4 linked regions of the Homo sapiens genome follow. The protein of the gene in region 4 interacts with the protein of the main gene of each other region in a pairwise test. Each region holds a gene or a part of one and is shown on either strand. Other genes may lie near its edges.

The links.
Region 1: the proteins of LURAP1 (region 4) and TPM3 interact in binary tests that used the Homo sapiens proteins (3 or more experiments, as listed by UniProt).
Region 2: the proteins of LURAP1 (region 4) and KRT3 interact in binary tests that used the Homo sapiens proteins (3 or more experiments, as listed by UniProt).
Region 3: the proteins of LURAP1 (region 4) and TXLNB interact in binary tests that used the Homo sapiens proteins (3 or more experiments, as listed by UniProt).

Annotation. Positions count from the first base shown.
Region 1 is NC_000001.11:154,189,068-154,196,900, forward strand, and holds the start of TPM3 (tropomyosin alpha-3 chain), read right to left. Parts: upstream 3,034-7,833; 5' UTR 2,952-3,033; coding exon 2,835-2,951; intron 2,667-2,834; exon of another isoform or gene 2,562-2,666; intron 2,245-2,561; coding exon 2,119-2,244; intron 1-2,118. UniProt on the Homo sapiens protein: Binds to actin filaments in muscle and non-muscle cells. Plays a central role, in association with the troponin complex, in the calcium dependent regulation of vertebrate striated muscle contraction.
Region 2 is NC_000012.12:52,789,153-52,793,118, reverse strand, and holds the end of KRT3 (keratin, type II cytoskeletal 3), read left to right. Parts: intron 1-312; coding exon 313-408; intron 409-715; coding exon 716-880; intron 881-1,302; coding exon 1,303-1,428; intron 1,429-1,692; coding exon 1,693-1,913; intron 1,914-2,246; coding exon 2,247-2,281; intron 2,282-2,760; coding exon 2,761-3,077; 3' UTR 3,078-3,434; downstream 3,435-3,966.
Region 3 is NC_000006.12:139,253,993-139,261,025, forward strand, and holds part of TXLNB (beta-taxilin), read right to left. Parts: intron 6,446-7,033; coding exon 6,326-6,445; intron 1,647-6,325; coding exon 1,572-1,646; intron 1-1,571. UniProt on the Homo sapiens protein: Promotes motor nerve regeneration. May be involved in intracellular vesicle traffic.
Region 4 is NC_000001.11:46,206,307-46,213,339, reverse strand, and holds part of LURAP1 (leucine rich adaptor protein 1), read right to left. Parts: intron 1-7,033. UniProt on the Homo sapiens protein: Acts as an activator of the canonical NF-kappa-B pathway and drive the production of pro-inflammatory cytokines. Promotes the antigen (Ag)-presenting and priming function of dendritic cells via the canonical NF-kappa-B pathway.

The sequences.
Region 1 (7,833 bases), about 110 Mb from region 4:
GTTGCAGTGAGTCGAGATCTTGCCACTGCATTCCAGCCTTGGTGATAGAACAAGACTCTGTCTCAAAAAAAAAAAAAAAAAAAAAAAAAAAAAAAAAAAAAAAAAAAAAAAAAAGCCCAGGCGCAGTGGCTTAGGCTGGGCGCAGTGGCTCACGCCTGTAATCCCAGTACTTTGGGACACTGAGGCAGGCGGATCACTTGAGGTTAGGAGTTCGAGACCAGCATGGCCAACATGGCGAAACCCCATCTTTACTAAAAAAAAAATACAAAAATTAGTTGGGTATGGTGGCACACACCTGCAATCCCAGCTACTCGGAAGGCTGAGGCAGGAGAATGGCTTGAATCCAGGAGGCACAGCTTGCAGTGAGCCTAGATTGTGCCACTGCACTCCAGCCTGGGCAACAGAGCGAGACTCCATCTCAACAACAACAATAAAAAGAAACCTGGCTGGGCGGGGTGGCTCACGCCTGTAATCCCAGCACTTTGGGAGGCCGAGGCAGGCGGATCACCTGAGGTCAGGAGTTCAAGACAAGCCTGACCAATATGATGAAACCCCGTCTCTAGTAAAAATATGAAAATTAGCCAGCCAGGCATGGTGGCACGTGCCTGTAATCCCAGTTACTCAGGAGGCTGAGATAGGAGAATCGCTTCAACCTGGGAGGTGGAGATGGCAGTGAGCCGAGATAGTACCATTTTATTACAGCCTGGGCAACAAGAGTGAAACCCTGTCTCAAAAAAAAAAAAAAAAAAAAAAGGAAAAGAAAAGGAAAGAAACCGGATGGCAGAGAGACCAAATATGAGGATCCGAAAGCATTTATGAATGGTTCACTCTGTCTGTCCTTCTAGCTATTTTCCAAAACCAAATGTGATTTTATTTTATTGACTTATTTTTTGAGACAGAGTCTCTCTCTGTTGCCCAGGCTAGAGTGCAGTGGTACGATCTCGGCTCCATGCAGCCTCCGCCTCCTGGGTTCAAGCGATTCTCCTGCCTCAGCCTCCTGAGTAGCTGGGATTACAGGCACCCGCCACCACACCTGGCTAATTTTTGTATTTTTACTAGAGACAGGGTTTCACCATGTTGGCCAGGCTGGTCTCAAACTCTTGACCTCAGGTGATCCACCCGCCTCGGCCTTCCAAAGTGCTGGGATTACAGGCGTGAGCCACCGCACCCAGCCCAAATATGATTTTAAATATTACATGCTCCTTTTTTCCTATTAACTCAGTTCACTGAGAAACTTGTTTCCACCAATACTGGGACATTTCTGTTGTTGTTGGTAAGATTCCTATGGTACTTTTCTTCTAAAAAACTTTTCAATCTACTCTCTCATTTATCTTTGCAGCAAACTTCAAGGTTAAAGATGAAGGAAAGTAGGTGATGATGATGGGATAATATGAGATGGAAAAGAGAATTTATTTTATTTGAGAATGGGAAAATTCAGCCCTAGACAAGCTGAGTAATTACTCACGGTCATAGAGTGAAGTCTGGTGGTGATACCTTTACCCCCTAAGATTCTTTCTTAGTTTCTATTATACTCTGTCACTGTAGGGATCTCTCTGCTGCCCTAGGAGCAATGCTTCATATGGCATCTCCATGGCATAAAGGCAAATGCCTGCATTGGCCAAGATAAATAAACCCATATATGGCCAGGGTCAGTGTGACCTCCATTTCCCATTGTGAAATCCGAGCTGGTTTTGTTGGACAGTTGAGAGATGAGAGGTTCCCTATTAATACACATATCCACATGCCAAGACTTGGACATAAAAGCTAAGAATGTGGCATGGGGGAGGAGGTAGGATAAGTGACAGCATTCTGAACTTAGAGTCCCCTCTCTTTGTCCAGGTCCTGGGAAAGATAATTAAATTCCTGGGTTGGTGATAGGAGATAAATGAGACCTTTACATGTATTAAAAAAAAACTTTTAACATGTTGGAGATGTCTTTAAGAAAGAAAATACATGCCATTATGAGAATATACCAGCATGTGGTTATATGCAAAAATGTATGTGAGTATATATGTCTGTGTTCCATGAACCCACAAGTGTGTTTGGAATTTCGTCATACATTAACATAAAGATCTATATGTGTAGATTAAACCCATCCTCCATCTCTCTAATACTCACATCAGCAGCCTTCTTCTCTGCCAGTTCCAGCTTCTCCTGGGCATCCTTCAAAGCTTCAGAATACTTGTCCAGCTCATCCTCTGTCCCTTTCAGCTTCTTCTGCATGGCTGCCAGCTCATCCTCCAGCTATAGGAGCCCAGAGAGTCACACACAAAAACACACAAACACAACAATGCAGGGTTGGACCCTGGGCTCTTGGAGCCCTGAGTGTAACCTCCATGTTACCATCCCTAGTGAGACACACTTTCTCCCCAGCCACTTCCAGCCCACTGCCTCAGGAGTTATGCCGTAGCTTGGCCTGTGACCCTGTAATCTCTGATCCTAAGATGACCAAGCCATCCTGGGTTTTCATCCAAGACCCCTGGATGATAAATATCTAAAGTGTAGATGCCCGTGATGCTATTTGAGTGAAAAGAGATGCTCTTTCCCTCTAGAACTCTTACCTTTTCCTCTAGAAGTCAAGGGTTCTTCCAAAACATGGTCCATTTCTACTTAAATTCAGCAGACATACTGTGGCTCACTGACTTTCCCAAGGTCACAAAGGCAGTCTGAGACAGATATGTTAGATATCCTCTGCTCCTCCAGTGAGGCTGGGGAGTCCATCCCACCCCCAAAAAGGAGGTGACACCAGTAGTCACTGTCTTTCCCATGAAAACTCCCTTCCATTTCACAGTCTTGTTCACTAGCAGATGAGAGAGATCAATGCCAGTGCCTACCTGTTTACTTCTTTCTTCTGCCTGCTTCTGCTCAGCTTCAGCTTGCTCTGCCCGATCCAGAGCATTCTCCTTGTCTAACTTCAGCATCTGCATCTTTTTCTTGATGGCCTCCATCATGAGCAGTGGCTGTTGGTAGGCTCACCTGTGAACACTGGAGAACTGGAGACTGGGGCAAGAAAGAAGGGGCTGCTGCCTGAGTGACCAGGAGGTCCCCAGACTTGAGTCTTTATCTGTGCTCATAGCTCCACCTTTTGTTCCTAATATGGTCTTTCCAGCTCCCTCCACCCCATCATTGTTCTCCTGGGGGAACACAGGGTGAGACGCTTTGATGAACTGACATCACCAGCAAAAAAAATATCTAGCAACAGCTGAGGCTGATTTTAGACAATGGAAAGTGGGGGAGGGAAGAGGTTCTCCCTGACCCTGAAACTTTCCACTCATTCTGGGCAGCTCTATGGATGTTTTAAAAGAAGAGGAAGAGGGGAGGGAAGAACATTGAAATAGAGAAGTGTACTTTGGCAATTCTAGGTTGGCAGTTTGCATCCAGGGGGTCCTGGTTGCCTTTCAGCTTCCCGTTTCACTCTCCCCCAGACTGTGTTGAATGCTGGTCAAACTCCGTTAGTTGAGTTTTAGCTTTTGATTCCTGGTATTCAAGGAGCTTGGGCACAGGGAAGAGGGGAGGTCACTCATGATCCTTAACAATTCTCCCAGATCCCCAGATCAAATTGCTGTGCTATTCTGGGAGTCTCCGATTGGCAGGGAGACGTTTTTCCTCCCCACCAAGAGCCACAAGAGTAGAGTAAGAGGTAGGGTTGGAATCTCCAACCCTATCCTTGAAGGCTATCCCAGAGCTTCAAGTGGGGTGGGGAGAGAAACAGGGGAGGGTCAGAACAATCCAGACAGGATCATACCCTTTGTTTTCCCACAGTAATCTTAAAATAGAACTGTTGTACCCACACAGACTTTGGTCTGTGTGGCTCTCTCCTCTTCTTCCCTTTATCTTCTCCCTTCTTAATTCTCCCCAACGCTGCCACTCACCACATCATCGTAATCATCATTATCAGCTCTATTCTTTCCAGTTTAGTTCCAGACCATGTTTATTCTTCCATTGGGAGCCTTGTTACTAACAGGTGGCAAGGATACCAGTCCACTGGCACCATACACCTGAAAATATGCCAAGGGAGAGGTGGGCACTGTTCAAGGTGACCAGATATATTGGACAAATATAAATGGCTCTAGTTAGTCATTTATGTCAGGATACTGAGAGTTAATGCTAAGCCCCAGCAATGGGGGAACGGAGACACCCACCAGGCCAGTGGGTAGAGCAGAGCTGGAGTCCACTATTGAGAGCTTCCAGTCACTAGAGGTAGATAGGCAGATAGACCATCAGCTGACTCTCGACAGAGAGAGGAGAAACCAAGTCTCCTTTCTCTGGAGATTAGCCAGGGAAAGGGGTTAGGGAACAGGGAGAGGAAGGAGTGGAAAATGGGGGGGGGGTGGGCAAGTGAATAAGGGGGAGAAAAATACGAGGACAAGAAAAGGCAAAGAAATGTCCCTTCTAGTATAAGGGGACAAGAAATAGAAAGATTCTATCCTCAAATTCCAACTCTCTCCCATTCCCACACCAGCCCTCTTAGGTTAAGATTGAAATGCACATAGGTTGCAGCTACTGGACTTTTGGGGGGGTCCTGGAGAGAAGAGGTTCAGTAAAAGAGACAGGAGCCCCAGAGATTGAAGTATGAAAGAGGGTGGTGCTGAATCACCTGCTGCTGTAAGAATATGTTTGACATTTAGTTGGTTCCTAATTAAACAACCCAATATCAAACATATCACACAGAAGCAGGCAGGAGAGCTTTGGGGGTCATCTGCCTTCCTTCCAGTTGCAAAGAAAGAATAGAGCAGACACCAGGCACCAATCATGTCTAGGTGGAGAGCCATCTCCTTGAGGAAGGGTACTGGCTCCTGCTCTTCACCTCCCAAGACAGCCAGCTCTTGCTTATTGTCCTACGTGTCATCCCTGCCTCAGCTCCTCCTCTACAAGCTCCTGGCCTTTGCTGGATCACGTTGGCCTAAACCAGGAAGAATACCTGGCAGGGCTCCACATCCGGGCAACTATCGTTCCCTAGAGCTCCCACACAGAGCTTCTCACCCTGATGTCACGGCCCCAGCGCCCAGAGGATCAGCCGTGTCAGCAGCTCCTCATCAAAATTGCCACCTGCTCTCTTCAATGCCATTCCAGCTGCCCTGAGGCTTTCCGGGGTGGGGGCAGAGGACTTGTACACCCTGCTTTACCTTTCCAACAGAACTCCTAACCTTCCCAGATCACCCCCACAAGACTACTGAGGTCCGTTCAGGAGGCACCATCCTGGCACCGTCCTGCTCTTAAGTGCTGCAGATGCTTGGCTTCCCCTTTCTGCCAGCTTAACCCTTCTCACCTTCTCCCCATGTCCTCCAGGCATCCTCCTTAAAGTCACCCTTGGATGTCCAGAACAGAAGAATAACTTGTCTCCCTGGCAGGCTCCATCGTGGGCTCCAGAAGAGAAGACTTATAGTTCCCCACCTTGCCTGGCAGAATTGAAACTAAGGCTTTAGACTGAGGGTAAGAGAGGAAACTTCTGCCAGGAAGCAGCCTGCAGTCCACAGGAGTCCTCTCCTCTTCTAGGGCTTTTTACCAGAACTCCAGGCTGCGTTCTCCAAGGGTCTTCCCTCACAGGGATCCAGCCGGATTCCCACATGGGAAATTTCTCTTTTGGAGAGAATCAGGTCTGTTGAATGTCATGTGGCAGGCAGATGCTTCTCTCCACTGTGGCAGAAAAGAGCCCAAGTTATAGCTGCATTGGGGGCTGGGGGGCTTGAGTGGAAGTGTGGGGGTGGGAGGAGGACACTCTGCTTCAGCCCCTAGGCCTGTTCCATGTGTCCTTGTTCCCATTCCAGACACCCACCCCAAACCCCAGCATATACCAACTCCACAGTGTCCTTGATCTAGATCAATAGCTTGTCCCAAGCCCCAGTCAATTCCTGTTGTGTGGCTCTTGCCTTTCAGGGGAAGACTAACAAATCGGCATATACAGGCCCCAAGGTAGGCATCTGTGATGTTGTCTTATGTCTTTGTTCCTTTTTGGCTCCTAAAGGGGATGTGTATGTAATTTGTACTTTCTTGCTCTCCCTTCTTACCCTTAACCCCTCAAGTTCTAGTTCCCTTCTCTGAGAAGCTTACCCACATTCAAGAATCAGAAGCTGGAGGAAGAGAGGCTGGGAAAGAGACTAGCAGGAATGAAAGGACTTTAATGTTTGGGGCACTAGAGGAACAGAGAGGCAGACTGGGAATATGGATGCAGGGGAGAAGCAGCTGTCTTGGAAGGAGAGTTTGTATGGCATACCTAGGCAGAAACATCAGATGGCCTTTGATACAAGCCGTTTAGCTCTCCTGGAAATATCTACTATGTAGCCATTTCAAACAGGACTGAGCCCCTCTGAGCCAGAGGAGCTGGTTATAGCATTCGCCACAGAGGGAAGAGGGGCTGAATGGGTATGATGGGGTGATGTTATGAGAGCAGACAGAATAGATAGAGAGGATCAGAAGAGATGGGCTCTGTAGGGGGCCAACCTGCCAATACTGGAGCCAGCCTGGCACTGACAAGCCCTGGGGGAAGAGGCCAAGGTCAGGGATCAAGGCAGAGGGGATGGGGCATTCTGTGGGTTCAGATGAACAGAGGAAAGAAGAATAGCAAAATAGAAGGAGTTGGTGAGGGAGTCTGGTTGGAGGTAAGGGGAGCCCATGTAATGGAAAGGAATGAAGGAAAAAAACTATCATAGGAGCAAGAAAACATCATTATGGGTTACCATTTATTGGACATTTTGTGCTACTTGCTGCTAAGTGCTTTATTTAATCCCCACAGCAACCCAATGAATTAGGCATTATCTCCCTTTTTACATACAGCATAAAGAACTGTAACCCAGAAAATTAAAATAATTTGCACAAGGCCACACAGTCAGTGACAGAGCCAGCACTGAAACCCAGATCTGTCCAGTGTTAAAGCCTGTTCTCCTAACGCCAAAATATACTGCCTGTGTAAAAGAAGCAATAAGCGGCCTGGGAGACAAATATGGGGGAAGATTTAAAAAGTGAAGGTGCAGTCCGGGTGTGGTGGCTCACGCCTGTAATCCCAGCACTTTGGGAGGCCGAGGCAGGCAGATCATGTGGTCAGGAGTTTGAGACCAGCCTGGCCAACATAGTGAAACCCTGTCTCTACTAAAAATACAAAAAAATTAGCCAGGTGTGGTGGCAGGTGCCTGTAGTTCCAGCTACTTGGGAGGCTGAGGCAGAAGAATCACTTGAACCCGGGAGGCAGAGGTCGCAGTGAGTCAAGATCGCGCCACTGCACTCCAGCCTGAGTGACAAGAGAGATTCCGTCTAAAAAAAAAAAAAAAAAAAGTGAAGGAGCAGCTGGCTATTTGGCTCATGCCTATAATCCTAGCACTTTGGGAGGCCAAGGCAGAGACTGCTTAAGCCCAAGGGTTCGAGACCAGCCTGAGCAACACAGTGAGACCCCCATCTCTACAAAAAAAAAAAAAAAAAAAAAAAAAAAAGCCAGATATGGTGGCATGTGCCTGTGGTCCCAGCTACTCAGGAGGCTGAGGAGGGGGTATTGCTTGAGCCCAGGAGGTCGAAGCTGCAGTGAGCCATGATTGTACCAGTGCACTCCAGCCTGGGCAATGGAGCGAGACTGTCTCAAAAAAAAAAAAAAAAAGGCTGGGTGCGGTGGCTCATCCCTGTAGTCCCAACACTCTGGGAGACTGAGGTGAGCGGATCACAATGTCAGAAATTCAAGACCAGCCAGGCCAATATGCTGAAACCCCATCTCTACTAAAAATACAAAAATTAGCCGAGCGTGGTGGTGGGCACCTATAGTCCTAGCTACCCAGGAGGCTGAGACAGGAGAATCGCTTGAACCCGGGAGGGGGAGGTTGCAGTGAGCCGAGATTGCACCACTGCACT
Region 2 (3,966 bases), on a different chromosome or scaffold from region 4:
TCTGGCTGGGTTGGGGGAATCTCCTCACTCCACTGCCACAGAGCTGCCAAGTTCAGGCCTTTGGAGCAATAAACAGAAGTCAGGTGCACCTTAGTCTGGAAGATCCCTAAAAGAGTTAGTTCATCAGTCTTTAGTTTTTTAGTAGGATTAAACTTAGACCATCCTAATGAGATACAAATTGCCCGTTCAAGTGGAGACTGGTCTTAGACAAGGACCATCACTGCACCAGTCCCCTCTGCTCTTTCTTGCTGCAGTTGTGGTTTGCTGTTTGTTCATTGGGAGAATAAGGCCTTTATCTTCCTCTTTTCTCAGGATGTGGACAGTGCCTATATGAACAAGGTGGAGCTTCAGGCCAAAGTGGATGCCTTGATAGATGAGATCGACTTCTTAAGGACCCTCTACGACGCTGTAAGGATGTTACCTACTAAGAAGGGACAGAGGGAGAGTGAGGTGTTTCCAGATTTGAGGCTGGTGCATTTTGGTATATAGGCCCCAGAAGACATCTGGAATGAGCCTGGAGATGAGGACCCTTGGAAGGGATTCCACAGGATAAGCTGCAGACATGGGGTTCTCTGAGTGGCTGCGGACAGGGTGTGGCTGATACACATGTGGAGCAAGGAATCAGTGAATGAGACTGTTGATCAAGAGTCTTTCAGGGCCCTGTGTGCTTGTTACAGGGACCCCAAAAGTGAACAAGCTCCCTCTGTGTTGACAGGAGCTATCTCAGATGCAGAGCCACATCAGTGACACATCTGTGGTGCTGTCCATGGACAATAATCGCTCCCTGGACCTGGACAGCATCATTGCTGAAGTTCGTGCACAGTATGAGGATATCGCTCAGAGAAGCAAGGCCGAAGCTGAGGCCCTGTACCAGACCAAGGTGGGTGCTAGTCACCTCTTACGGGATCCACTGGAGGTTTCAGAGAGGCCATGGCCTATTGGACAGCTGGGTAGTGAGTTCCCAGTGGTCACTGGGTGAATGCCTTTTGGTTTTACCCTCTGAAGTCATCCTTCTAATGGTGGTTCAGTTGCAGAAAGTCTTGCCCCTGGGGGAGATGGTTGCCTGCTATGTGGGACTGACTCCAACTTGCTCAGGAACTACAGGGTAGGAAAATCTTCTACCACAACAACCCAGATGTTCTCTTTCCTGCTGCCTTGGGGGTTTCCCTGCTGAAACACAATGCAGTATCATTTTAGCAAATGCCTTACTGAGCTTCTGAAGGTTTGGTGGGTGATGTTGGAGGTGTAGAAACAAGTCAAGCAAAGCTGCAGGAATACCCCATCTTCCCTTCTGTTCTGCAGTTGGGGGAGCTGCAGACCACGGCTGGCAGGCATGGGGATGACCTAAGAAATACCAAGAGCGAGATCATAGAGCTCAACAGAATGATCCAGAGGCTGCGGGCAGAGATCGAGGGTGTCAAGAAGCAGGTGGGATGGTCATGGATGCTGGCACCTGGGATGATTGCTGAGGGGCAGGGGCTAGGATCTCAGGACTCCTCCCCTGGAATAGACGTCTGGAGGTCATCTCAGGCTGGCTGACCCACAGGGCAGTATCTCCACAAATGGAGACAAGATGGAGGCACTAGGGGAGGAGGAATGTTCCCTGACTTTAAGATGGGATAATCCATTGCATGTCAGGAAGGGCCTGGGGCCCTCTTACTGAGCTCATTCCTCCTACCTCCCTTGCCCCAGAATGCCAACCTGCAGACGGCCATTGCCGAGGCCGAGCAGCATGGAGAGATGGCCCTCAAGGATGCCAATGCCAAGCTCCAAGAGCTGCAGGCTGCTCTACAGCAGGCGAAGGATGACCTGGCGCGGCTGCTACGTGACTACCAGGAGCTGATGAATGTCAAGCTGGCCCTGGACGTGGAGATCGCCACCTACCGCAAGCTGCTGGAGGGCGAGGAGTACAGGTGAGCCTCCAGTCCCGTCTTCCCACACCCCCTGGCTCAAGTCATAGGCCAAGGGCCAGATAAGTGACCAAGTAACTGGGGATGGAGCCCTGCTGTATAAAGAGAGGCCTTGTGGTGAAGCATTTGCCTCTACCAGCCCACTCCCTCCCAGGGCACGTATGCAACCAGTGCCCACAGGCTCTCCTTGCTACAGCCCAAAGAGGGGTGGAGAAAGCTTACCTGATTTGCCAGGCTTCTCTGTTCAGCTCTGGTTGCTATTCATGCCCTTGGTCCGTGGACTTGTTGGTGATGTGCTTTGTGACGGGGCCCACTTTCTCTTGCTTTCTCAAACAGGATGTCTGGAGAGTGTCCGAGTGCTGTCAGCATCTGTAAGTACCGAAAGTAGCTAAGAAAATGAGAGTTAATTCTGAAATATCTGCACTAATCCAGGGTAGTAGCAACTAATTTAAACATATTTTTACGGAAGTTGGAGGGGTTTTCTGGGAGAGGAGAGGGAAGTGATTGGCTTTTGTAATTGTTCTGGGTTCAGGGCACTTTTAATAGGCTTCGACGGCCAATGTGGAATATCCAACAGGGGGCCTCTTGATAGGAGGATAAATTCAGACGCTAGATCCCCTCCAAGGGGGTCATCAAGACTGTACTGTGGGAGGAACCACTGGCTAATTCATAATGGCTTAACGGCAGGGGAGTGAGTAGCTAGTGGCCTTGGAACGGCTCGTGGTGAACATCCTGTGCAAAGCTGCCTTGATCAGCTCTGGATAGTCGTGGGCCCGGTGGATCATTGACAATAACATAGCAGCTGGCCTGGGCGCCGTCGCTGATCGCTGTCCTGTCCTCTCCCCCACAGCCGTGGTCAGCAGCAGCACGACTTCCGCCTCCGCAGGTGGCTATGGAGGAGGTTACGGCGGAGGCATGGGCGGTGGTTTAGGAGGTGGCTTCAGTGCGGGCGGCGGCTCAGGCAGTGGCTTTGGCCGGGGAGGCGGCGGTGGAATCGGCGGTGGATTTGGCGGCGGCAGCAGCGGTTTCAGCGGTGGCAGCGGCTTTGGCTCCATCTCTGGCGCCCGCTATGGAGTCAGTGGCGGGGGCTTCAGCTCGGCCAGCAACCGGGGCGGCAGCATCAAGTTCTCCCAGTCCTCCCAGTCCTCCCAGCGCTACTCCAGATAAAGAGCACGCATCAGCATCGCAGCCACTCCAGCGCCTCCCCTCCGCTCCCCACGCCCCCATATTGGCAACACCCCCAGCGCCACCCCATGCTCCCCAAGAACGCGGCTCTGCGCTGGAAGGCTTGTGGCCTCTTGCTCCTCCTTCCAGATCCCCGGCCAAGCCCAGTCACGAGAATTTCAGGCTCTTCTCTCCGGCTCCAGCCTGTGCCTGTGATTGTCCAGGTGTGGCCTAGGCCGCCACCTTCTGCTGCCCCGGAGTCCCCTCCCTGGGTGGGATGCTCACTACAGCTCTGATGTATATAGCACACAGCCCCCTCCGCCCCTCCGGTCTGTCGCCAATAAAGTGCACTGTGTTTCACTCCGGGCCTCTGAGTATTCGCTCCATGTCCTTCTCCTTAGGGCACTGAGCTCCCTGGTCACCTCCCTGGCCTCCCTGCCTCTGCCTCTCCCATGTGGGCTCTGTGATCCACAGAGCAGCTGGAGAACTCTTCCTCTGAAACAAAGGCAGTTCGTCTTCTCAGTCCATGGTGCGGATCCGGTTGTTCATTATTCTGTGAGCACCGTGGGGAGGGAGAGGTCCTGCTCCCCGACGCTGTTGTACCCTGTGTACCCTTACCGTCCTTAGTGGTGAAGGCTGGCCCATGCAGACATCTGTCTCCTCCCTGTCTTCTCTCATGTGGGGGAACTAAGAGGGCCTTGGGGACAGAGGGTTTCTTCCCTTGGTGTTGATTCTCACTCCAGCTGACATCGTGAAAGCTTTTCCCCCATCAAGGTGCTCCGGGAAAGTGCGGGCTGCTGGAAGCCCAGGGATGGAAATAGGCCCCAGAGCAGCCTATGTCAAAGTCTGACCCAGGAACACCATTCCATTGAGACACTCTGCAATAAAAGAC
Region 3 (7,033 bases), on a different chromosome or scaffold from region 4:
CCACCCACCCTACACCATGATGTGATGAGTTCCGTGACTGCCTAAAGGATGATCTTGAGTTTGTAACTCTGGGCCCTTTGCTTCAGACACATTATGGTTCTAACTTCTATGTATCTAGTGTATTAAGACAATTCTTCTTTATTATCAGAGAGTAGTTCATACTGGAGAAAATAATTTATTATTGCTTTGCTATATATGCATTGCAGAAATATACTTTAAGAAGGCTAGATATGAAAATGTTCCCTGTATTTTTGTCTGTGCAGTAGTATAATCTGTGATTTTAAATTTCTTATTTGCTTTTTTCTTTTACAATGAACACGATTTGTGTGTGTGTGTGTGTGTGTGTGTTTACAGTGAACAAGTACTCAGCTGTCAGCATATAAACATTTACAAATCTTAAATTAATGCTGCCCAGCTTGGAAGGTTTCTGATTTCCTTGCCTTCGGTGAATTTCTCCCTGTGACCTCACAGTCCCTTTAGCACTTGGGTGTTTCCCAGGGCAGTGGAAGTCTGTGGCCTGTGGCAGGATGGTACTCCTGGAACCCACAGGGACCATTATTTAGGACAGGCAGAGCCCCAGGTAGGGGTAAGATGGGTAGGTCTGGCTTTCTTCCAGAGTCAGCTGTGGCATAAATGTCCAGAATGGTCCCCCCTTTTTTTGAGTCTGAAATAGGAACCCCCAGAGTCTAACAGAAGCACATAAAAGTTGTCACGCAGCCAAACCAAAATGGTTCCTGACTTGCCTGACACTTGTATCCATTCACCACTGACAAGGCCAACCTCTGATGGCATAGAAACTTGAGTGGTGACTATTTTTCTCATTTTCTTTTCTTTTCTTTCTAAACAGATGGAGTCTCACTCTGTCGCCCAGGCTGGAGTGCAGTGATGTGATCTCGGCTCACTGCAGCCTCCGCCTCCTGAGTTCCAGTGACTCTCCTGCCTCAGCCTCCTGGGTAGCTGGGATTACAGGCACATGCTACCACGCCTGGCTAATGTTTATATATTTTTTAATAGAGACGGGGTTTCACCATGTTGGTCAGGCTGGTCTCGAACTCCTGACCTCAGGCGATCCGCCCGCCTGGGCCTCCCAAAGTGCTGACGTTACAGGTGTGAGCCACTGCGCCCGGCCTCATTTTCTTTTTATGATAAATAATATCAAGACATGAGGACATCTTAAGAATCGCCAGTCATAGATGGTGCATCTGAGCAGTTTACGTTTTCTTCTTACCTTAACAGGGCAATGAGAGGGGAAGTACGGTGGAAATAAGAAGTGCTAGATGGGAACCTGGACACTGGCTGACTCTCTTGACCACTGTACTGTCATCCATTGTCTGTCAACAAACCTTTGACTGGATGTTGCCGGCGCAGAACATTTCTTTTTCATAGATATAATATTGTGCTTTTATTTTTACTTGAAAATATGAATAAATGTGAAGTTGTTCTTCATTTCCAATTCCCATCCCCCCATCCCCTGCCACATAGGAGGACTTCTGCTGCCCACCTTTGGCCCCAGCCTTTTTATCTGGGGACAGTGAGGACAGCACCCCCATGCCTCGTCCACCTGGCCTCACCTGAGCCTGCAGGACTGTCTCTTGCTCCTTCAGCACTTTCGCCTGAAGTTTCCACTCTGCTGCCTGGTTCAGCAACTATGAGAAGAGAGAGTGTGTGGAAAGATGGTCAGATTTGCCTTTTAGATTACTATTTGGCTGTAATTTGTCTACAAAACTTAGCAACCTGCTCATTAACCTCCTTAAGTAATTTTTTGGAACTTTGAAAAGAATCTAAGAAAGCTTAAAAAACCAGGCCCAGCATGGTGGCTCATGCCTATAATCCCAGCACTTTGGGTGGCTGAGCTGGGAGGATTGCTGGAAGCCAGGAGTTTGAGAACAGCCTGGGCTATATAGGGAGACCTTGTCACTGAAAAAAAAAAAAAACCAAAATTAGTCAGGGGTGGTGGTGCATGCCCGCAGTCCCAGCAACTCGAGAGGCTGAGGCAGGAGGATCACTTGAGCCCAGGAATCCCAGGTTGCAATGAGCTATGATGGCACTGCTGCACTCTAGCCTGGGCAATAGAGTGAGACTCCATTTCTAAAAAAATAAAGAAAAAGAAAGCTAAGAAAATAATTGGTCTAAAAAAGTTGGATTCTCAACTATAAACTAGTGGTTTTAATAAAAAAAATAGTCTCTAGCTCAAGTATGAATCACAAAAAATTCAACTTCCCACCACATTCTGGAACCTTCTCTAGTAATCTTGGCCAACAATCATTCAGCCTCTGCTGGAACCTCTCCAGAACATCCCCACTTGGTGCACTTTTGTTAGCAACTGTTTCTTTTCTTTTTTCTTTTTTTTCTTTGAGACGGAGTTTCTCTTTTGTCGCCCAGGCTGGAATGCAGTGGTGTGACCTCAGCTCCCTGCAACCTCCGCCTCCTGGGTTCAAGCAATTTTCCTGCCTCAGCCTTCTCAGTAACTGGAATTACAGACACCTGCCACCATGCCCAGCTAATTTTTGTATTTTTACTAGAGACGGGGTTTTGCCATGTTGGCCAGGCTGGCCTCCAACTCCTGACCTCGTGATCTGCCCGCCTCGGCCTCCCAAAGTGCTGGGATCATAGGCGTGAGCCGCCGTGCCCGGCCAACAACTGTTTCTTTAGAGTACATCCAGAATCATTCTCCTAGACCACTGTTCTCCACCATAGCACACTTGATACAATAAGAACTATGTATGTCCTTGGTCTTTGTCCCTGATTCCTGACACAGAGCTTCTAACATGCATCAGAATCTCCTACGGAACATATTAAAAATGCAGATGCCTCTCAGATAATATGATTTAGGAAGTACAGAGTGTGACTGAATTCTATGCTTCAAGAAAATACCCAAAATGGTCTGGATATCGGTGGCCTGTGGATTACATTTTGAGAAGTATGGGTTAGAAGTTTGACCTATTGGTCTAAATCCTGGCCCCTGAGAGCTGATGGGTTAAATTGGAAAGGGGATTTGGGCATACAATGACACATTCATATATAAGCTTGTAATTTTAACTTAAGATGAATGCCTATTTATCAATTTTGAGGTAGGGCTGTGGTCTTTGTTTTGGGTATGGATCTTCTGATTAGAGTTCAGAGGGTTTTTTGTTTGGTTTTTATTATTATTTTTAAAAATCACATCCACAGTGTGCCATGTAAGATTTCTAGGTTGTTAGGCTTGTGTGTGTGTGTGTTTAGCGATAGTGCTAGAACCTAAAAATACTTATGAAGCAGCTTGTCTGGATAATTCTCTAGAGTTTTCCACTTCCCCCCAGTCTTTTATAGCTACTCATATCTAGTTTGACAGTTGTTTTTTGCCATTTGCTTGCATTTGGTCTTTCAAAGCACTAAGCATAATTTGCACAAACAGTTTTTTGTTTTCATACTTATATTTCATCAGTTTATGTAACATCCTGTTGATTTACACAAAAGCAAGTGCAATTGGAAAGAAAAGGTTTGTGCAAAGAGCTGATTCTTGGTAAGCTCCACCTTACTAAACTGGGGCAAATTTTGTAGCCCTTCCAGAGAGTGGCTGGGTAGACCTGCAAGTCAGCATGCTGTGGGCATCGGTCAGTGCGTTTTACAGAGAAAACAGTGAACGCAGAGATCAATCTGGCTAGTCAGTCTGGAGGCTATCAATTAAGAAGTTTCTCTTGTATTTGAAGATAAGCTGATTAAAATTTCCCACTTTTAGTTTATCCCTATTGTAAAAAAAAGTCCACGAGGTCTATGTATTATATAATCAGAACCAAAAAAACTAACAATAAAATCATTACTTTTAAAAACTGGAAAGCTTCTTTTTCCTCATCTAAGTTTGTCTTTTTCCCATGACCCAGCCTCTCCATTTGTAAAATGGGTTGCATTTGTTCCTCTATGCCTCCCAGGGTGCAATGAAGATTGATTCTCATAGAAGTGCAACCAAATGGTCCTATGAGAGGACTGGGGCAGCTGTGGAGTAGAAGCCCTACAGTGTCCCCTCTGGCCATCTGAGGGGAGTGGTGGCACTGTGCCTGCTTCTTGTGAGCTGGCTATGCAGCTTTGTTGTGATTGGTGACCCCCAACCTCGAGGGAGGCTGGTGGCTGCCTATTCTGCCTGGGTGACTTGATATCTCATCGCTTCCAAAAGGAGGTGCCCCAGCTGCAAGCCAGGTAGGTGGCTAGCTTCGAAGAAGTGAGATGAGCTCCCTCTCTTTGACTCAAATCTGTTTTGCTGAACCAAAACAGGTGCTAGTTTCTTGCTAAGGCTGGGTCGTCTCAAATCTGCTCTCCAATGTCTCTCATGTGCATCTTTGTCTTGTTCTTTCTCTTTCATGTCTCGTGTTATACAGCAAAGTACCAATATACTATGGGAAGCATATTTTACCCAAGAAGGTAATTACACCAATGGTGGAATTTCTATTCTCTTGGATTGTGAATAATAATTGAATGTTTTATTTCTTGCTTTCAGAGCTAGGTTGTAGATGGATTTCATAAATTAATCTTTTTCTTAAGAGAACATGGACTTCTGATTTGAAATTATCCAATGTCCACCAGATTATGTTGCTCAAAATTTGTCTTTTTGTTGCCATGTTTGAAAATTTATTTTAAAATTACTATTCTAATCAACTGAATTGATTCTGGTCTGATTTTAGGTAAATGAAAATCTCAAGATCAAAATGTGACATGGCCAAATTTGAATAAGTGGTCCATGGACCATGTTTTACCTCTCTCTCACCCCAGCAACAGATACATGCGTCAACTCATACCTCTGAAACACACGTCTGAGTGTGATGCACCGTCACAGAGAGTGTGGGCTTTGGGAACAGACGCACATAAGATCAAAACACATCTTGCTCAGTCAGCAGTGTGCAACCTTAACAAGTTGCGTATCTTCTTGGAGCCTCAATTCTCTCATCTGTAGAATGACCCTACAGCTTTTTGGGGAGTGCTTGGGGTTAATGAGATATCAATAAACACCACCACTCAGTTTCCTCAGCCCAAAACTTAGGAGTCATCCTTGACTTTCTCCTTTTCTCTTTGTCACCAGCTTCAGGTCTGTAGCACTGTCTGTTGATTTCACATTGAAAACAACTTTCATCCATCTCCACCCCTCTTCTCTGCTGCCATATCCCTAAACCAAGTCATCATCATATTTCATCTGATTGCTATAGTAGCCTCCTGTCTTCTTGCTCTCTTGTCCCTCTGCAGTCTATTTTCCATCCAGGAGCCAAATTAATCTTAGAAAATGCAGAGCAGATCATGCCATCACTTCCTTTGCAGAAGCACCCAGTACTTTCCCATTGTATTTAGAATGAAATCCAAATAACTTTTTAAGCCCTACAAAGCTACACAGTTTGGCACCTGCTTACCTCTCCAACTTCATTTTGAACCTCTCCCCCATGCTCTTGCTTCCCTGACCTTTTCCTGTTTCTGGAGCACACCAAATTGGTTCCAGCATTAGGGCGTTTGTTGCTGCTGCAGATGCTGGAGACGATGCTCCAAGTAGCAGCTCCTCATCTGGCAGGGCTTAGCTCAAGCATTCGCCCCTCCAGGAGGCCTTCCTGGTCACTCAATCTAAAGTACGTCCCCTTCTTTGGCCCCTTCTCAGTTTCTCCTTACTTCCTTAGTAGTGGTGATTATTGTCTGAAATGACCCTTCCCTGTTTGCTTGTCTATTGCTTGTCTCTTTCCAGTTAGACTCTAATCTCCATAGTGGGAGATGCCCCTTCTCTGTCTTGTTCACGGCTATGTCCCCGCACCTAACACGGTGCTTAGTAGATAACAGGCACTTGAAAAATATGTGTGGAATAGATGAATGACTATTTTATGTAGAAAGTAGTGTAGACATAGTGCCTCAGACTGGGCTGGCTAATTTAGTTCTCCATAGAAGCTGGGGCTCTTTCTCCATCAGTCTAGTGCTCTTTGACCATTATAAAAACAACTTGCGTCCAGGCGCGATGGTTCACACCTGTAATCCCAGCACTTTGGGAGGCCGAGGAAGGCGGATCACCTGAGGTCAGGAGTTCAAGACCAGCCTGGCCAACATGGTGAAACCCTGTCTCTACTAAAAATACAAAACAAGTAGCCTGTTGTGGTAGTGGGCACCTGTAATCCCAGCTACTTGGGGAGGCAGGAGAATCGCTGGAATCCTGGAGGCTGAGGTTGCAGTGAGCTGAGATCACGCCACTGCATTTCAGCCTGAATGACAGAACGAGACTCTGTCTCAAATAAATAAATAAATAAATAAATACAAAACAACTTGCTCAGAGTGTCTCTGACACTGAGGTAGACCAGATATGCACAACGACTAAAATGATAAATACATATTCCTTTTCTCGTTTGTGTCGCTCCTCCGCTTCCTTCATCATTTCTTGGGCCTGCTCAAGCTTTGCATCCACCAGCTTCTGCTGCAGTTCTCTGTGTTTAAATATTTTGTCCAGATGCTAAGAAAAATAAAGTGTACATAGAAAGCTTGGTTTATTATTGGTGCTTAAAAATGCAAAGTAAAATAATTCACATTAATACACATTCCCCAGGTTTTAAGATTTAAAAGAAGAGAGGGATAAATGCATTGGCATCACTTACAGCTTTATAATAAAGCTGTAAATTGGTGAACCCCTCCCCCTGACTTTGCACCACACACACAAAGCTAGCTATAAAAGGTAGAGGCACCAGAGTTCAGCAGTGTCAATGCCAAAAGATCCATACAATATTTTTCTACGTTTGGTAACTATTAGATATGATGCTATTTATTATGCTAGACAGCACAGACAATGATGTATCAGTATACAATATACAGGGGCTACAGTTGTATCATTTGGTATTTTGGCTCTTTCTGTGAATATAAAACCACTTTTAATTGCAACACTTGTGCAATTTATCATGATGAATTCTCTGCATTCTTGCCTCTGGCGTTGTGAGAAAGCCTTGGGGTGCCAGCATGTGGTCCGAGGTCTGGGAGTGAGGCCTGAGCCCCCCTGAATTCTACTCTGTTGCTCTGGTGGAGATGACAAGGCCAAGGGTCATAGAGA
Region 4 (7,033 bases):
AATGTCCCAGCACAATTACTGAATATCAATCCCTACTTGATCTGCTATGCCAATATCAAGTGCCATATATCATATTTGTGTATATGCTGTGTTATAATCTTATGAAATCACTATGGTATATGCTGTTCATCGAAACATCGTATGTTTTGGTCGTATGATGACTGAAACATCATATAAATATTTGTGTATGTGTACACACTTATATACACATAAATGTTTATATATATGTGCATATATACACACATGATAAATGTTTATTTGACATATGTAGTCTATCATTGATCAAAATGTTTATATGGTAATCCCAGCACTTTGGGAAGCTGAGGAGGACAGATCACTAGAGGTCAGGAGATCGAGACCATCCTGGCTAACACGGTGAAACCCCGTCTCTACTAAAAATTACAAAAAAAATTTTTGCCAGGTGTGGTGGTGGACACCTGTAGTCCCAGCTACTCAGGAGGCTGAGGCAAGAGAATGGTGTGAACTCGGGAGGTGGAGCTTGCAGTGAGCTGGGATCATGCCACTGCACTCCAGCCTGGGCGACAGAGCGAGACTCTGTCTCAAAAAAATAAAATAAAATAAAATAAAATAAAAAATTAGCCAAGCATGGTGGCTCTTGCCTGTAATCCCAGCTACTCGGGAGGCTCAGGCAGGAGAATCACTTGAACCCGGGAGGCAGAGGTTACAGTGAGCTGAGATGGTGCCACTGTACTATAGCTTGGGTGACAGAGCGAGACTCTGATTCAAAAAAAAAAATTTGGCCGGGTGCAGTGGCTCACGCCTGTAATCCCAGCACTTTGGGAGGCCAAGGCGGGCGGATCACGAGGTCAGGAGATCAAGACCATCCTGGCTAACACGGTGAAACCCCGTCTCTGTTAAAAATACAAAAAAATTCGCTGGGCGTGGCAGTGTACGCCTGTAGTCCCAGCTGCTGGGGAGGCTGAGGCAGGAGAATGGCATGAACCCGGGAGGCGGAGCTTGCAGTGAGCTGAGATCGCGCCACTGCACTCCAGCCTGGATGACATAGCAAGACTCCGTCTCAAAAAAAAAAAAAAAAATTTACATGGTTGTTTATGTTATACATGGTCTGACATTGACCAAAACGTCATTATGTGTGTATGTGTATTTACATATACAGGTCAGATCCCGCAGGTCACACAAACACAGTAAATGTTTTTTGTATTTGAAAAATGTTTATTGAATTATTCAGGAAATAACTGCTTTATTCACATCTATGATAAACCAGAGTAAGACCATGCATTAATATTTGTACATTGAGGCCAGGTGTGGTAGCTCACTCCTGTAATCCCGGCACTTTGGGAGGTCGAGGTGGGAAGATCACCTGAGATCAGGAATTTGAGACCAGCCTGGCCAACATGGTGAAACCCCGTCTCTAATAAAAATACAAAAATTGGCCAGGCGTTGTGGCGCACGCCTGTAAGCCCAGCTACTCAGGAGGCTGAGGCAGGAGAATCACTTGAACCGAGGCAGAGGTTGTAGTGAGCCGAGATCACACCACTGCACTCCAGCTTGGGCAACAGAGCAAGACTCCGTCTCAAAAAAATATATATATATATTTGTACATTGAGAAAATTAGACACTGGAATTAAATGGACCTAGATTTGAGTTCCAGTTTTGCCATTAATGAGCCATATGAAATTAAAATTGATTTCTTTAAACCTTCATTTCTTTATTATAATATGAGGTACTATCTAAAGGTTTGTCATGAGACATCGAAGGAACATATTAACATGCATAGCATACCATCTGACAAGTATAATACTGTAAATCAATAAATGGTAGGCTATTTGGCTCTACATATTACTATGGTCGACTTATTTACTAGTTGTGATATTACTGTGTGTGTGTGTGTGTGTGTGTGTGTGTGTGTGTGTGTGTGCAGGTTTTCATCCAGTTTTTGGCTCATAAGCCCCATAGCCATTGTTACAGTGTTTGTTATAATGCTGGGGCACTCAGAAATAGGCTTCAGGAAACAGTCTCTTTCTGACCTTCTCCTGCTCTCCTCTCACCTTCCCAGAGTAGAACTCTAATCTGATTGTGGGTCATAAGACCCTCATTCCAGAGAAGGTCCTGACTCATACCCTGGAGGAAGGAATGCCGCAGAGAGAGGCCAATAAGAATCTAAACAGACAGGCTTTGCTGGGTTTTGATCAGACCCTTTTTGTCCAATAACATTTTGATATGGTTGTCCATGTTTCAATCGTGGACAACCAATAAAGTCTCTTTAAAAGGCCCAAAGGACCAGGCACAGTGGCTTAAGCCTGTAATCCCAACACTCTAGGGGACTGAGGTGGGAGGATCGCTTGATCCCAGGAGTTCAAGACCAGCCTGGGCAACACAGGGAAACCCTGTCTCTACCAAAAAAAAAAAAAAAAAATTAGGTGAGTGTGGTATTGCACACCTGTAGTGCCAGCTACTTAGGAGGCTGAACTGGGAGGATTGATTGAGCCAGAGAAGTACAGGCTGCAGTGAGCTGTGATTGAGCCACTGTACTCCAACCTGGGCAACAGAACCAGACCTTGTCTCAAAAAATAAAAAAAGGTCCCCACAACAGGATTCAGAGAGCGTCCAAGTAGCTGAACAGATGGAGGGTGGTGCACCCAGGGAGAGCACAGAAGTTCCGCACCCCTTCCCGTATGCCTTGCCCCATGCATCTCTTCATCTATATCCTTTGTAATATCCTTATAATAAACCAGTAAATGTGTTTCCCTGAGTTCTGTGAGCCACACCAGCAAACCAATCAAACCCAAGGAGGGGGTCATAGGAACCCCAATTTGAAGCTGGTTGGTCAGAAGGTCAGGAGGCCCAGATTTACGACTAGTGTCTGAAGAGGGGGACAGTCTTGGGGACTGAGCCCTCAACCTGTGGGATGTGACACTGTCTCCAGGTAGACAGAGTTGAAATTAAATTAGTAGACACCCAGCTGGTATCTGCTGCAGAACTGATTGCTTGCTTGCTGGTGGGAAGAAATCCTCATATATTTTGGGGTCTTCTGTATTAATGATTATTGTTGTGTTGCATTAAGTGAAAAAATTAAAAAAACACACACACACAGTTTAGGGTTTTCTAAACACTATGGCAAAAGCATAGAAAAAAATTTTATACCTGAAATTATTTGTGTTTTTGGAAGAATATCACAACTCTAATTCAATTGAACAAATGACTATTGGGTACATGGATTTGCTAATAATTACAAAGATAATGGAGAAATTGTTCCTGCTTAATAGAAGCTTGCAGTCTCAATAAGGGGAGATGAACATAAATAACTGCAATATCAGACTGTACAGACTATTAACTTGATAAAGGAGATTATCTTCAATTATTTCATCCTGGAGACAAATATATGAACAGTGAAGACAACTGTCCTAGTCCATGACCAAACTAAATACATTAAACAAAGCTCCTCATACTAAAAACACTTGTCCTGCTGTTTTCCCCTCCCTCCTTTCCTTCCTTTCTGCCTCCCTCCATCCCTCCCTTCCTTCCTCTTTCCAAAATTTACATCTACAGCCGTGCATGGTGGCTCATGCTTGTAATCCCAGCACTTTGGGAGGCTGAGGCAAGTGGATTACCCGAGGTCAGGAGTTCAAGACCAGCCTGGCCAACATGGCAAAACCCCGTCTCTACTAAAAATACAAAAATTAGCTGTGTGGTGGCGGGTGCATGTAATCCCAGCTACTCGGGAGGCTGAGGCTGCAGTGAGCTGAGATTGGGCCACTGCACTCTAGCCTGGGCAACAGAGCGAGACTCCATCTCAAAAAAAAAAAAAGAAAAAAAAAAAGAAAACAACAACAGAACTTACATCTCCAGTCTTCTGCTAGATAAAGAATTAGGTGGCACCTGGTTGCACAGTTAGGGAGGGGATCTTAGAATATGACTTTTAAACATTCAACCAGCCCTTTTGTTTTCAGCCCCACTTGTGCCCCCAGTTCCAGAAATACCTGGTGCTTCCAACCCCTAAGACCTTTAAGGGTTTTTGCAGTATAAAATGTGTTGCTTTGGCAGGGGGCGGTGGCTCTGTAATCCCAGCACTTTGGGAGGCCAAGGCGGATGGATCACCTGAGTTCGGGAGTTCGAGACCAGCCTGACCAACATGGAGCAACCCCATCTCTACGAAAAATACAAAATTAGCTGGGCATGGTGTCACATGCCTGTAATCCCAGCTACTTGGGAAGCTGAGGCAGGAGAATTGCTTGAATCCAGGAGGCGGAGGTTGCGGTGAGCCAAGATTGCGCCATTGCACTCCAGCCTGGGCAACAAGAGCAAAACTCTATCCCCCACAAAATAAAAAAGTGTTGCTTTTCAGCTTTCCCCACTGCTGGCTCGGGACTGAGCATTTTTTAGGTCTGAGTTAGTTACCACTCTTCCTTCTGAATTTCAGTTTCCAAAATTTTGTTCCTATTACCTTGTCTCTTATTCTCATTGTCATAACGGCTTCATGCCTTTTATTTATTTTATTTATTTATTTTTCTCTTTTTGAGACAGAGTTTTGCACAGTCGTCCAGGCTGGAGTGCAGTGGCACGATCTTGGCTCATTGCAACCTCCGCCTCCAGGGTTCAAGCGATTTTCCTGCCTCAGCTTCCCTAGTAGCTGGGATTACAGGTGCACCACCACGTCCAGCTAATTTTTGTATTTTTAGTAGAGATGGGGTTTCACCATGTTGGTCAGGCTGGTCTCGAACTCCTGACCTCAGGTGATCCGCCCGCCTCGGCCTCCCAAAATGCTGGGATTACAGGCATGAGCCACCGTGCCGGCCCTCAATCTGGTATCTTGAACTGGAATTCCCACTGACTTTATTCATTCTTCAAGCCCCAGCTCAAATGTCACCTCCTCGAGGAAGTCTTCCTTGCCCTTCCTCGAGATGGAATTAATCCATTCAGTTATGGAACCAATATTTATTGTTTCTTATTGGTGTGGCACTATGTTCGATGAAGAAAGAAAAGGCATCATTTCTTACCTTCAGAAGGTTCATAATCTAGTGGGTAAGATAAGACAATGAAGCAAGCACTTAAAATTCAGTGTGGTTGGCTTGGCATTGTGGCTCAGCCTGCAATCCCAGAACTTCGGGAGGCTGACACAAACGGACTGCTTGAGGCCAGGAGTTTGAGACTGGCCTGGGCAACATAGCAAGACCCTGTCTCTATTAAAAAAATAAATAAGGCTGGTGGGGTGGCTCACACCTGTAATCCCAGCACTTTGGGAGGCCAAAGCAGGCAGATCACTTGAGGCCAGGAGTTCAAGACCAGCCTGGCCAACGTGGTGAAACCCCATCTCTACTAAAAATACAAAAATTAACTAGGCGGGTGCCTGTAATCCCAGCTACTCAGGAAGCTGAGGCAGGAGAATCGCTTGAACCCGGGAGGCAGAGGTTGCAGTGAGCCGAGATCACGCCATTGCACTCCAGCCTGGACGCCAAGAACGAAACTCCGTGTCAAAAAAAATAATGATAATAAATAAATAATTTAAAAATGAAAAGTTCAGGCCAGGTGCAGTGGCTCATGCCTGTAATCCCAGCACTTTGGGAGGCCGAGGCAGGCAGATCACGAGGTCAGGAGATCGAGACCATCCTGGCTAACATGGTGAAACCCCGTCTCTACTAAAAATACAAAAAATTAGCTGGGTGTGTTTGCAGGTGCCTGTAGTCCCAGCTACTCGGGAGGCTGAGGCAGGAGAATGGGCTGAACCCAGGAGGCGGAGCTTGCAGTGAGCCGAGATCGCACCACTGCACTCCAGCCTGGGCGACAGAGCGAGACTCCATCTCAAAAAAAAAAAAGAAAGAAAGAAAGAAAGAAAAGTTCAGTGTGGCAAACGCTAGTGGAAACAACTGCTATACAGAGGACTGTAGATACCTAGAGGGCCATAACCTAACCAGGTCAGGAAATGCTTCCTAGGATAAGGGACATGAGCTGAAAATTTAAGGTTAAGAAGGACTCAGCTAGGATGGGCGCAGTGGCTCACACCTGTAATCCCAGCACTTTGGGAGGCTGAGGCAGAAGATCACTTGAGGTCAGGACTTCGAAACCAGCCTGGCCAACATGGCAAAATCCCGTCTCTACTAAAAATACAAAAGCTAGCTAGGTGTGGTGGCACATGCCCATAGTCCCAGCTACTCAGGAAGCTGAGGCAGGAGAACCGCTTGAGCTTGGAAGGCAGAGGTTGCAGTGAACCGACATTGTACCATTGCACTCCAGCCTGGGTGATGGGAGTGAAACCCTGTGTCAAAAAAAAAAAAATAGAAGGACTCAGCCAGACAAAGAGGTGGAGAGAAGCATTTCAAGCAGAGGAAACAGCCTGTGCCTCCTTCCAATTTGAAATCGACTTTCTAGAGCACAAACCCAACCACATCACTCTACAGTGAAGACTCTTCCAGGAGGCCCTTCCTGGGTTCTACCAGCACTTATCATCCTGTACTAGAAATGTTCTTCTGTCTCCTCCTTCCCTAACCAGACTGTGAGCTCCCTGAGAGCAGATCCTGCCCAATCCATTTCTGGTGCTTGGCCCAGTGCTAAGGAGGTCACATTCAGTTCTGTGATTCTCTTGCCTTTACTATCCTTGACCCCTTTGATGGTTCCCAGGATTCAGGGGTCTGGGTTGTAGTGTGTTGCTGGGAAATAAATCTGAGAGCAGATTCTATAATCCTGTGGCAGTGGGATTCCCTGACTGTGACAGCATCACTCCCAGAATAGAAGAAAGCAAGGTTTTCTTGCCAGAAAAAGAAACACTCTTTTCACACCATCTCTTGAAGAAAATAGAGTATAGGATAAACAGCTCAGGAGAGATGCAGCCTCAGAGGCGACTCCAAACCCAATTCTCCTTCCAAGGAGATTCAGGCTCCCTACTCCTCTCCTTAACATCTACATACCAGACTCTCTGCCCAGCGCTGGGGTCCTGTATGGTTTCCTCATTGCTCAATATAAATCAGGCCCTAGGGTAAAAGCCTGGAAATCCCAGTCCGAGCTCCCAGAGCGGGGACTATCAGAATATTGTTACTATAAAGGTTCTTAACAATCA